4 separate regions of the Homo sapiens genome follow, and all the other regions are reported to be linked to region 1. The links are microRNA targets in miRTarBase. Many come from high-throughput screens and were not tested one by one. Region 1 holds a microRNA gene; each other region holds the end of a gene's coding sequence.

Region 1 (3,163 bases):
TATTTCCCCAGAGACTCTACAGTTCACTGATTTTTTAGCTTATTAAAGTCATACCACTGATTTCTCATTCTAAAATGTTCTTACAACAATGTGGTTAAGAGAATGGGCTCTGGAGTGAGAAAGTCCAAGATGTGCATCTCTGCTTTATCAGTGATTAGCTGCATGACCTAAGGAACATTATTTAATACATGGGAGCCCCACTTTTCTCATATTTCTCATCTGAAATATGAGTATAATATCTGTTATCTCAATAAATAAAATATTATTTTCAAATTGTTTATCACATTGCCTGGCACATAGTTAGTGGTTAATAAATATTAGATGTTTTATACTAAAATATGATATTAAGGTTCCTTCTAAGCCCATGAGTCTATGATTGAAGCCAAATTATTAGTCCAGAACTCACTGGTATCCTGGGCAGGAGGGGGAAACCAACAATTTCTTATTGAGCAGTTGCTATGTGCTTGGCTATTTAAAATTCATTGTCTGCTTATCTTCATAGCACTCCCAAAACAGTTTATTAGTAATCCCTTTTAAACATGAGGCCATTATTAGTTTATTAGTAATCCCCTGTAAACATGAGGCTACAAAGTTTAAGTCATGTGCCTAAGTTACAGAGAGAGTAGCTTGCAGAGCTGGGACTAATCACCTCCGTGTGTTAGAATCTGAGCTGTACAGAAGGCTTTGTCCTTAATCTCTACACTGCTTATGAGTAAACCCCCGCATTACGTCTTTCACTGGAGATAGCACTTTTCTGTTGCTTCTCCTTCTGCCAAGATGGTGTTTTACATGGATGCTAAAACCAGGACTGGAGATCTGTTGCCTGTACAGAGCCCACAAAAGCCTAAACAAAAGAGTGGTTTGAAGGTCCATCTCTGCTTGGTGGTCTATAGTTTTTCAGTATTAATAATCAGTAGAGAACCGTTTCTAGAAAAACTGCAATGTTCCACTGAGTTCTGGATTAATGGTTTAACTGTAGTTATGGGGTTAGAAGAGACCTTAGGATCCTATCCAAAAGTCTGCTGAATTGATTAAAGCCAAACATTTAGAAAGATATGGCTTCATAGACAGTTTTCTTTAGGAGGTTCCACACCATGCTTTGAAAGTAAACCTCACCTTGTCTTAAAGATTCAGTGTTTTAAACCTGATACCCGAGAATCTCAACTTCCCTTTTACGGAATGGCTGAGACTTATCTGTAGAGGAGGCACACCCAGTTAACTCAAATGCTCATCTGGAATAATTGCTCACAAGAAAGTGAGAATTGGATGATAAAGTTGAAATAACCATAACCGTTGAAGAAAGACGGCACTTCTCATTAATAAAATCATCAGGGAAGGCAAAACGTTTGAGAGGTAAACCCCAAATATCCAGAACACAGACCTAGAAGAAAAGAGGGTACAGGAAGTCCAGGAGATCTTCAAATGTGCCATTCTGATTTTTGCAGTGGTCAGTGATTACAGGGCGCATCGCAAGAGGTTGAAAGCTGAAGAAAACAGCGGGAGTCCATTAAAAGTTATCTGACGGGCTCAGCTTTAAAGATCATGAAAAAGAGATGGAAAGAAGGGCATGTAACCACAGAATCAAATGGGAAAATGGTACAGAGGTGCCCAGAAAATCAATAGAGGAAGTTCTAAGGGGATCACCCTTGCTGGTTTATGCCTTCATCCAATTGTTTAGCAACATCGATTGAACATCTGGCTCTACCAGGAACTGAACAAAGACTTTCCCTCAAGTGTGAGCTTGAGCGTTAGGTTCTTCAGTTCCTTCTGATTCCCTGTGATCCAGCTCGTGCTTATTGTCTTTATTTTCTGAGTCTTGCCTCTATGGCCCCCCTCCTCTCTGAAAGCAAGGCCACTTGAGTCGTGCCTTTCTGAATGAAGTCAATGTCTGTGCCAGTCAATGCACAATTGTCGCTTATGACCTTCCTGAGGTTTCCTGTTTCCTCCTAATACATTAGAAGAACAAATCAATAAAGTCTGTGTCCCAGTACCTTGGGTAACTGCCATCTTCATGGTTACATCACTATCCAGGGTGACTGTGAAGCAGTGGGGCGCTTAACCCCAGGAGCAGTGGGAGGACTGGGTTGGGCTCATTGGAGTCTCACACAGGGATGGTGAAATGGCTCCTGGCTGATATAGAAGCACAAGACTCCCCCACCACATGGTGATTTGTATTCAGCAGCAGCCCCCTCCCTTGGCACCAGGCAGATGGGTCCCCAGGAGAGATCCAAGGAAGAAGGAAGGGGCTGTTGTCCTTGACAAGGAAACGATTGATGTCTCTGCTTTCTCACCCTCTTTAAATTGAGATGGGGACAAGATTAAAAGTTCAGGCAGGAAGCCAAGTGGTGATTTACAACACTGAGCAACCAGCCTAGTGTGTGAGGAAGCCTGTGGTCCATCTCTCAAGAAATGAGCTGCCTGGATATTTGAAATGTTCACTATTCTTGCTAGAATCTGGACATTAAGGCCCTGTCATGACAATAATAATGACAAAAATAGCAAGGAAAAATAAATAATAATAAACCCGATATATTGTATGTTATATGCAATGTCCTGTATTTTATAATTGTTATCTCTAAATTCTTACAATGATAGTGAAAGGCAGGTACAATTACCCCCATTTTATAGATAAGGTAACTGAGGCTCAGAAAAGTTAAGAAACTTGATTGAGGTAACACAGTTAGCAAGGAGTAGAACCAGGATTCCAAGCCAAGTAGCCCTGGCTCCAAAGCATGTACTATTCTGTTGCACTGCATTGGCTGATGCATAACGACATGGTTGGCTTTTCTCAGGACATAGATACAGTTGAAGCACAGTCTCAGGACACAGATACAGTTGAAGCACAGTCTCAAGTTGGTGTGACCACCTGCTTAGTTAAGGGTTCTCTGGGGTGTATGAAACTAGGCCAGGCCTCTTGTTGCTTAGGTGCCAAGGGTGATGGAGCTCACTCCCTCTGTCCTATGACACTGCAGACTTTGCTGTAGGAGCCTTTGCAGTCCCTTGTCCTGCCTTTGGCTTTGTGTCATGTAGTGGAACCTCTTTCAGTTGTAAAGTTTTCACAGGGAGAGCAAAGCCAAAAATGGGGTTAGGAAAGGGGTATCAAGAACAGGCACTGAGAAATGTGTCTGACACTGACATCTCTAGCAAAAGTAAGGACAGTGGT
Region 2 (3,000 bases), not on the chromosome of region 1:
ATAGTAACATAAGGGACAAAGGAGTACAAGTTTCTTAACTGGTAGCCAAAAATATAATTTCTACTAAAGAGAAACAGGACACATCATTTATGGATTACTAACTTGTTGTGATTTAACTAGGAATAGAGGAAAAAGCATAACTTTATTTATTTTCTTTTTTTTTTTTTAGACAGTTTCGCTTTTGTAGCCCAGGCTGGAGTGCAATGGCGCGAACTCAGCTCACAGCAACCTCCGCCTCCCAGGTTCAAGTGATTCTCCTGCCTCAGCCTCCTGAGTAGCTGGCATTACAGGCACGTGCCACCAAGCCTGGCTAATTTTTTGTATTTTTAGCAGAGACAGGGTTTCACCATGTTGGCCAGGCTGGTCTCAAACTCCTAACCTCAGGTGATCCACCCGCCTTGGCCTCCCAAAGTGCTGGGATTACAGGCATGAGCCACTGCGCCAGGACAAAGCATAACTTTAAAAAGCAAAAATGTATTAACAGCACTACATATTTACTTCTCTGCATTTAGAGGAGATACATAGATGGCTGGCTGATAGAGGGGAAGTGGTTAGCTTTGTTAAACTTTAGCCAAAGTTATTAATGCTGCTTTTCATGAATCACTGTAGCAATGCCTTTCTTCTTGATATTTAGGAAAGTAGTCTGGTTTTTGGAGTCTCTACCTGATGACTGCCTACTAATCTATTAGATCATTAAGGACTATTTTGAGATACAAGATCATACAAATCATAAGCTTTGCTTCCAATCACTCTCACTTGTAGGGCCAGAGAAATGGACTACTCAGGAGCTACAGAGCTCTCTGATTGGCTGAAGACCCAGAGAAACTGTGGATTATGCAAGAACTAACAAACATATGGAGACTAAGTTCCCAAAGAAGAGTTAAATATCTTTGAGTTTAAACCCTATCTACAGCTGTGTTTGCTGGAATTGTCAGGACTGTAATAGAGTTTCAGTTACCAAGGAGAAATGTTGATTTAGAGAAGGGGTCAGCCAACTTTTTCTGTAAAGGGCCAGCTAGTAAATATTTTGGACTTAACCAGCCATATGGTCTTCTATAATCATTCAACTCTGCCATTGTAGCACAAAAGCGGCCATGGACAATATGTAAACAAGTGAATGTTGCTCTATTCCAATAAAACTTTATTTACAAAATAAGACAGCAAGCCAGATTTGACGCGTGGGTTGTAATTTATCAATCTATTCTCTATAGTGATGGCTGTCACACTCTATATGTACATCAGAATCACCTATGGAACTAGTTTAAAAGGTAGGTTCCTAGGCTCCAGCCTACCCCTACAGAATCAGAATCTCTAGGAATGCGAATCAGCAATTCAATAAGGTCCACAAGTGGTGTGTGAACCACACTTTTAAAGCTTTGTGTTATGCAGCTAGCTTCATCTAAGCTGGGGTGGCCTTGCTGTCCTAGATGTGGGCCAGCACTTCCTGCATCCTGTGGCAGTAAAAATGGAGTAACTTTTATTTTCTTTGACCTTCCTAGTAGAAACAACTGTTTTTGTTTGTTTGTTTGTTTTTTGCTTCCAACCTCTAAAATGCATAAAATAGTCCTTCTCAGGTGAAATTAACATGAAGTTTAGGGATGATTTTGAATGAAAATGCTCAACTTAAAATAACAAGATTTTAGGCCGGGCGTGGTGGCTCACGCCTGTAATCCCAGCACTTTGGGAGGCCAAGGCGGGCGAATCACGAGGTCAGGAGATCCAGACCATCCTGGCTAACACGGCGAAACCTCATCTCTACTAAAAATACAAAAAATTAGCCGGGCGTGATGGCGGGCTCCTGTAGTCCCAGCTACTCAGGAGGCTGAGGCAGGAGAATGGAGTGAAACCGGGAGGTGGAGCTTGCAGTGAGCTGAGATCGCACCACTGCACTCCAGCCTGGGTGACAGAGTGAGACTACGTCTAAAAAAAAAAAAACAAGATTTTTCAACCAAAAAGCTTCCTGAAATCCTTTAAATTGCAAAATTAGTAGGCACAATTCTTACCAAAAGACAGGGCTACATCTGAAGAAATAGTTTCCATTGTTCTCCCTTTCTCTCAAAATACCTCCAGCAAAGGCCTGCCCTGTTGCTTATAATTCCACTACTAACAAGTCATTACTTTGTGTCTAGGGGTCTTTGCTTCAACAGAACCTCATTAAAACTCATGTGAAAACAGAAAGTAGAAAATCTCTGTGGTTTGCATTAAGTTGACAAAACAAAACAAAACAAAAACCAACTCTGCAGGCCTCTGGCAGCTGCTCCCAACTTTAACAATCAGTAAAAAATAACTTATTCAGCTAAGTTCAGTTCTGATAAAATGAAAAAAGTGCTTTTTTATTTGTTTGTTTGAATTCCCAGGAATCAATCACCCAATCAGTCAACAAGGAAGTGATGTTCAGTCTCGTGAATAGCTCCAACTCTTCAGCTCTCCAGATTTTCCTAGGGAAGACAGAGAAAATCCTACAGTCAAAGGAATTGCTTTCAGGAACTTCCTAAGAAACCAGGAAATGATCTGCAGATAGCTCCAGGAAATGTAGCTCTTATTAAGGCTTTCACTGACCCTGTAAATGGAAAGGAGTGCTCTATGACAGCATAAGTTCTGATGATTACTAAAACATGGGCTTAGAATACCTTATATAGTTACCACTACAGCAAAGACTGTTTTTTCTTAGATACTATTAAGGTGATTCTGACTTCCCTAACACACACATAGAGAAGTTAGGAAAAAAAGACCCAGAAATTTACAAAGGAACGGAGTGAAGCCAGGCTGAAATTAGAACTCTATCATGAATATACTTTATAGATGATTATGTGTAGGAAATGAAGATTAGCTTTACAGTAGTCAGCAGTCAATATTTAAGGTAGCATGACTCGAGTCCAACATCCACAGGCTGAGCTTCTGTCTGCTCCATTTTTCCATGGCAAGAAAATCTAGGCATTTTCAGCAAAATAGGGAAGCCTGTTTTCCTGTTGGTTTCCAATTTACAAAAAGGGTCATGAA
Region 3 (3,163 bases), not on the chromosome of region 1:
TGATGCTCCCACCTCAGCCTCGTGAGTCGCTAGCACTACAGACACATATTACGAAGCCTGGCTAATTATTTTTATTTTTTGTAGAAACAGGGTTTTGCCATGTTGCCTAGGCTGGTCTCAAACTCCTGGGCTCAATCTGCTCACCTTGGGCTCCCAGGGTGGTGGGATTACAGGCATGAGCCACTGCACCCGGCCCACAGATTCTTATTGAGGCCTTTGTAAGTAGGCAGTTAATGCTCTATTGCCACCATTTCCCACTGTATTTTTTATAAATACCAATTGTTTGGTCAATCGACTTCTATTTATGAAACTGGAAAAGAATAATGATGATCCCAAATGTCTAACCTCATTGCTTGCCTTTATACAGAATCCTCACTATGGATGGGCTCATTGAGGACATTAAGCATCGGCGGTATTATGAGAAGCCATGCTGCCGGCGACAGAGGGAAAGCTATGAAAGGTGCCGGCGGATCTACAACATGGAAATGGCTCGCAAGATCAACTTCTTGATGCGAAAGAATCGGGCAGATCCGTGGCAGGGCTGCTGAGGCCTGTGGGTGGGACACCCAGTGCGAAACCCTCATCCAGTTTTCTCTCCATCTCTTTTCTTTGTACAATCCCATTTCCTATTACCATTCTCTGCAATAAACTCAAATCACATGTCTGCAAGAAGGCCTCCAAATATAGAAACAATCCCATTAGTCAGCAGTGGACCCTGTCTTTTATTAAGTGAAAGAAGAAACTGAGTCTGAAAGTACTCTAGGAGTAGAATGGTATTTGCCAGGGACTGGAGGAGGGGGCAGTGAGGAGTTATTGTTTAATGGGTACAGAGTTTCAGTTTGGGCAGATGAAAAAGTTCAGGAGACGATGGCCTGGCATGGTGGCTCACGCCTGTTATCCCAACACTTTGGGAGGCTGAGGCGGGCGGCTCACTTGAGGCCAGGAGTTTGAGACCAGCTTGGCCAATGTGGTGAAACCCCATCTCTACTAAAAATACAAAAAAAAATTGGCCGGGCGTGGTGGTGCACGCCTGTAATCCCAGATACTTGGGTGGCTGAGGCAGGAGAATTGCTTGAACTGGGGAGGAAGAGGTTGCAGTGAGCCAAGATCATGCCACTGCACTCCAACCTGGGCGACAGAGTGAGACTCCATCTCAAAACAAAAAAACGGAGATGGATGATGAATGGTGATGGCGGTTGCTCAAAAAGTTGAATGTACTTAATGCCACTGAACTATACCCTTAAATGGTCACGATGGTAAATTTTGTGTTTTACTACAATAAAAACTTTTTTGAAAGTCCAGGAGAAGTAAGGAATTTTTTTTTCTTTTTTTTAAGAGGAAGTCTCGCTCTTGTCCCCCAGACTGGAGTGCAATGGTGCAGTCTAGGCTCACTGCAACCTCCGCCTCCTGGGTTCAAGTGATTCTCCTGCCTCAGCCTCCCCAGAAGCTGGGACTACAGGCACCTGCCACCACGCCCAGCTAATTTTTGTATTTTTAGTAGAGACGGGGTTTCACCATGTTGTCCAGGCTGGTCTCGAACTCCTGACCTCAGGTGATCCGCCCACCTCGGCCTCCCAAAGTGCTGGGATTATGGGCATGAGCCACCATACCTGGCTGGTAAATTTTTTTTTTTTTTTTGTAGATGGAGTCTCGCTCTGTTGCCCAGGCTGGAGGGCAGTGGGACAATCTCAGCTCACTGCAAGCTCCGCCGCCTGGGTTCACGCCATTCTCCTGCCTCAGCCTCCCCAGCAGCTGGGACTACAGGCACACGCCGCCACGCCCGGCTAATTTTTGTGTTTTTAGTAGAGATGGGGTTTATCTGTGTTAGCCAGGATAGTCTCGATCTCCTGGTCTCGTGATCCCCCTGCCTTGGCCTCCCAAAGTGTTGGGATTACAGGCGTGAGCCACTGCGCCCGGCCGGAAAATTTTTTTAATGTAGTGAAATATGTCTACCATTTCCTACCCAATTTTTTTGAATCCCCAAGCAAAATCTTACTGAGAAAGCATCTATTACTTTTTATTAAACTGTTCCATGTTAGGTAGAGAGGAGAAGATGCATGTATGTATTTGGAATAAATTCTGCTTCTGAAAACACCTATCAACCAGACTAGAGTGCTGGAATCCTTGCCCAAAGAAATTCTTAAATCTACCCTAATGTTCATTCCTGTTTTCTGTCCTTTTAGTTTTCCTAACAGAGACTAAGAGAGGGATGGTGGAGAAGAAATAAAGCAATAGATGGGTGGGACTCAGTAGATAGTAGGAAAGAGGGAATGGAGCGTTGAGAGAGAATGGCACAGAGCCAGAAATACCCACAAAGCAGTGCTTCTCAAAGTGTCAGATCAGCAGCATCAATTTCACCAGAGGGATTGCTTGAAATGCAAATTATGGGACCCTACTTTAGATCTTCGATATTGGAAATTGAGGTTGGAGCCCAGCAATCTATTTTCACAAGCCTTGCAGGTGATTCTGATGCCTGCTAGAGTTACAACCACTGCCCTTTGCAGTACTCAAAGAGACTTCAAGTGGAGGTTCCCACCATCACTGCCTCTACCCAGCAGTCACTCCTGATTATTTTACTCTTGACAGCTGCGGAAACTGACCACTGTGGGAAGACCAGCTGCTCTGCTTTTTCTCCTGCTGTTTCCTCCACCATTGGTTGGCTGACAGCCGTGTTGCTATTATTAAGAGTCGGTGCCAGGCCGGGTGCCATGGCTCACGCCTGTAATTTCAGCACTTTGGGAGGCTGAGGCGGGCGGATCACGAGGTCAGGAGTTTGAGACCAGCCTAGCCAACATGGTGAAACCCTGTCTCTACTAAAAATACAAAAAAATTAGCTGGGCGTGGTGGTAGGCGCCTGTAATCTCAGCTACCTGGGAGGCTGAGGCAGGAGAATCACTTGAACGCAGGAGGTGGAGGTTGCAGTGAGCCAAGATCGCGCCTGGCGACAGAGCAAGACTCGGTCTCTTTTAAAAGTTGGTGCTGGCCAGGCACAGTGGCTCACGCCTGTAATCCCAGCACTTTGGGAAGCCGAGGTGGGCGGATCACAAGGTCAGGCGATCGAGACCATCCTGGCTAACATGGTGAAACCCCGTCTCTACTGAAAATACAAAAAAGTTAGCGGGGCATGGTGGCGGGCGCCTGTAGTCCCAGCTATTTGGGAGTC
Region 4 (3,163 bases), not on the chromosome of region 1:
ATTCCCCCTGAGCATTTAGGTGCGGGACTTCCCTATTGGCTGCAGAGGCTGGAACTAGGAAGTAGAAATCTCTGCGCTCCCCAAACAATGAAGTTCACTCGCTTCCTATGAGTCATTAGCCACTCAACGAAGTCCTCACTTAACGTCATCAATAGGTTCTGGGAAACCGTGACCTTAAGCGAAACGACGTATAAGGAAACCAGTTTGTTTAAAGGACTGTTATTACAGGATCTGCTTGTTTTGCTTAAGTCCGTTTCCAAGCACCTATACAAAACGCTGAGGATGCACTGTGCTTTGAAGCCCAACTCCTCTTCCAGCACCGGCAGCAACCCTTGCGTCATTTGTGACTCCTTGGGAGGGGGAAGAGGGCTGTGGTCACTCAGTGCCCCATGACGAGCACATGGCCCGGCACAGGTGTTCAAGGAAAGTGAATGAGCAAGTTGAGGCCACAGACACCCGAAAACAACTCATCACAGACATGGTCTCCCTGGCTACTCTTCCTACCGGCCAGCAGACCCTGGTTCCCATGTCCTCTCCCCCAAGGAGTCCACCTGACTCCTCCAGGCTGTCAGGCACCGCTTGAGTCCCACAGCCTCTTGTGCTTTTCCCACAAGCGGCCACCCTGACTCCTTAGCTCCTCATGTTGAGGGGCCACAGGGTAGAGATGGGGCCTCTTGAGCAGATCTGTGACAACCTAAACTAGTAGTCAAGAACCTGGGCTCTAGGTCGGGCGCGGTGGCTCACGCCTGTTAATCCCAGCACTTCGAGAGGCCAAGGCAGGGGGATCTACCTGAGGTCAGGAGTTCAAGATCAGCCTGGATAACATAGTGAAACCCACGTCTCTACTAAAAATACAAAAATCAGTCAGGTGTGGTGGCACTTGCCTGTAGTCCCAGCTACTCAGGAGGCTGAGGCAGAATTGCTTGAACCCGGAAGGCGGAGGTTGCAGTGAGCTGAGATTGTGCAGCTACACTCCAGCCTGGGTGACAGAGCAAGACTCCGTCTCCAAAAAAAAAAAAGGCGGGGGGGGGGGGGCAGGTGTGGCGGCTCACACTTGTAATCCCAGCACTTTGGGAGGCCATGGCGGGTAGATTACCTGAGGTCAGGAGTTCCAGACCAGCCTGGCCAACGTGGTGAAACCGTCTCTACTAAAAATAGAACAATTAGCTGGGCAAGGTGGCAGGCGCCTGTAATCCCAGCTACTCGGGAGGCTGAGACAGGAGAATTGCTTGAACCCGGGAGGCGGAGGTTGCGGTGAGCCGAGATCACGCCATTGCACTCCAGCCAGGGATACAAGAGCAAAACTCTGTCTCAAAAAAAAGAAAAAGAAAAAAAAAGAACCTGGGGTCTTCCACAGCCCGGTTACCTGTCCAAAATGCCACTTTGGGCTCGGCATGGTGGCTCATGCCTGTAATCCCAGCACTTTGGGAGGCTGTGGCAGGAGGATCACTTGAGGTTAGGAGTTCAAGACCAGCCTTGCCAACATGGTGAAACCCCATCTCTACTAAAAATACAAAAATTAGGCTGGGTGCAGTGGCTCACGCCTATAATCCCAGCGCTTTAGGAGGCAGAGTCGGGTGATCACTTGAGGTCAGGATTTCAAGACCAACCTTGCCAACATGTTGAAACCCTGTCTCTACTTAAAAAAAAAAAAATTAGCTGGGTGTGGCAGGCGCCTGTTCAAGCAATTCTTTCCTTCAGCCTCCCAAGTAGCTGGATTACAGGCGCCTGCCACCATACCTAATTTTTGTACTTTTAATAGAGATGAGGTTTCACCATCTTGGCCAGGCTGATCTTTAACTCCTGACCTTGTAATCCACCAGCCTTGGCCTCTCAGAGTGATGGGATTACAGTCGTGAGCCACCGTGCCCGACTCTCCTTGTTTTCTTTGTATTAAAGATTATTGGCTAGGCATGGTAGCTCACACCTGTAACCTGGACACATTGGGAAGATGAGGCAGGAGGATTGCCTGAGGTCAGGAGACCACGCCTGGGCAACATAGTGAGACCTGTCTCTACAAAAACAAAAATTCAGCTGGGGGTGGTGGCTCTCGCCTGTAATCCCAGCACTTTGGGAGGCCCGGGAAGGCGGATCACTTGAGGTCAGGAGTTTGAGACCAGCCTGACCAACACAGTGAAACCCATCGATACTAAAAATACAAAATTAGCATGGCGTGGTGGTGGGTACCTGTAATCCAAGCTATTTGGGAGGCTGGGCTTGAAAAAAATAGACATCCACAAGGATGAGCCATATATCCGCCAAGGTCTGCAGCCACTAATGGCCCCAAACGACTGCCATCTCAGCTTTGCCTGCACACTGGACTCTACTGGAGGTGTAGAGACAGAGACCCCCTGCCTTCTGCTTCCACTCACCCACACCAAGCCCAGCGCGACCACTTCTGGGGAGGGTCAAAATCCAGACTGGCAATAGGTCCAGGATGTTTACTGATTTCTGTCTGGTTAAACATCCAATACCAACACATAAGGCCACACACAGTTCTTGAAACTTTAAAATCCCTCAAAAACTGTTTATTATACAAGTGAGTTTTGAGTCACGATGGGCTTATCGGTAGGATTTCTGGTAGCGAGCGCGGGCACCAGGGCCTCCAAACTTTTTGGACTCGCAGCGACGAGGGTCAGCTACCAGCAGGGTCCGGTCATACTGGATGAGGATGTCTTTGATCTCCTTCTTGGAAGCCTCATCCACATCTGGCAAGAAGAGCAGGGACGAGGATTTAGATAATCACACAGAGTCCTTGACTTGATCCCCACACACCCATCTACCTCATGGGAAGGACCCATGCTCACTCACATTTCTGGTAATAGGCCACCAGGGCTTTGGAGATGGACTGACGGATAGCTGTGAGAAAGACACACAATTAAAGGGTACAGGAGCGCTGTGAAGGCCTCCCTCCCAGAGCCACCTCCTCCATGCGCCCAGTTCCTGGGACTCACCATAAATCTGGGCCACGTGACCACCACCCTTTACACGGACACGGATGTCTACACCAGCAAATCGCTCCTTGCCGAGAAGCAGAACTGGCTCCAGCAGCTAAAGGAATGGGGAATGAACAGGGATTTAAGTTACATGCTGGGCAGCTTAGCCATCTCACTGGGCTTCTTGTTTCTGTGGCTTCTGCCACCACTGGCCTTCAAGTACTAGT

The links. Region 1 holds the annotated microRNA hsa-miR-8081 (CUUGAGUCGUGCCUUUCUGAAUG, at 1,856-1,878, shown strand). A microRNA usually pairs through its seed, bases 2 to 8, with sites in the 3' UTR of a target mRNA and lowers its output. Matches are read on the target gene's strand: a 7mer-m8 pairs with bases 2 to 8, a 7mer-A1 pairs with bases 2 to 7 and ends in A, and an 8mer does both.
Region 2: miRTarBase lists BCL2L15 as a target of hsa-miR-8081. Seed matches in the 3' UTR shown: 7mer-A1 at 890-896.
Region 3: miRTarBase lists MRPS21 as a target of hsa-miR-8081. Seed matches in the 3' UTR shown: 7mer-A1 at 649-655.
Region 4: the mRNA of RPS16 is a reported target of hsa-miR-8081. Seed matches in the 3' UTR shown: 8mer at 2,546-2,553.

The regions. Positions count from the first base shown.
Region 1 is chr9:106,599,135-106,602,297 of GRCh38, forward strand. MIR8081 (microRNA 8081) reads left to right here and starts at 1,794; the gene lies at 1,794-1,888. All of the region lies in intron 8 of LOC107987108 (a long non-coding RNA gene), which reads left to right.
Region 2 is chr1:113,878,703-113,881,702 of GRCh38, forward strand. BCL2L15 (BCL2 like 15) reads right to left here. Exons shown (of 4, transcript NM_001010922.3): 4 at 1-2,438. The coding sequence ends at 2,421. The region is part of intron 3 of AP4B1-AS1 (AP4B1 antisense RNA 1); the gene reads left to right. Among named protein-coding and RNA genes, the nearest start is that of BCL2L15, 7.4 kb to the right of the region's middle.
Region 3 is chr1:150,307,681-150,310,843 of GRCh38, forward strand. MRPS21 (mitochondrial ribosomal protein S21) reads left to right here. Exons shown (of 3, transcript NM_031901.6): 3 at 368-1,299. The coding sequence ends at 548. Among named protein-coding and RNA genes, the nearest start is that of PRPF3, 12 kb to the right of the region's middle.
Region 4 is chr19:39,430,711-39,433,873 of GRCh38, forward strand. RPS16 (ribosomal protein S16) reads right to left here. Exons shown (of 5, transcript NM_001020.6): 3 at 2,955-3,051; 4 at 2,812-2,859; 5 at 2,427-2,708. The coding sequence ends at 2,563. Among named protein-coding and RNA genes, the nearest start is that of RPS16, 3.7 kb to the right of the region's middle. RefSeq lists an enhancer at 734-853.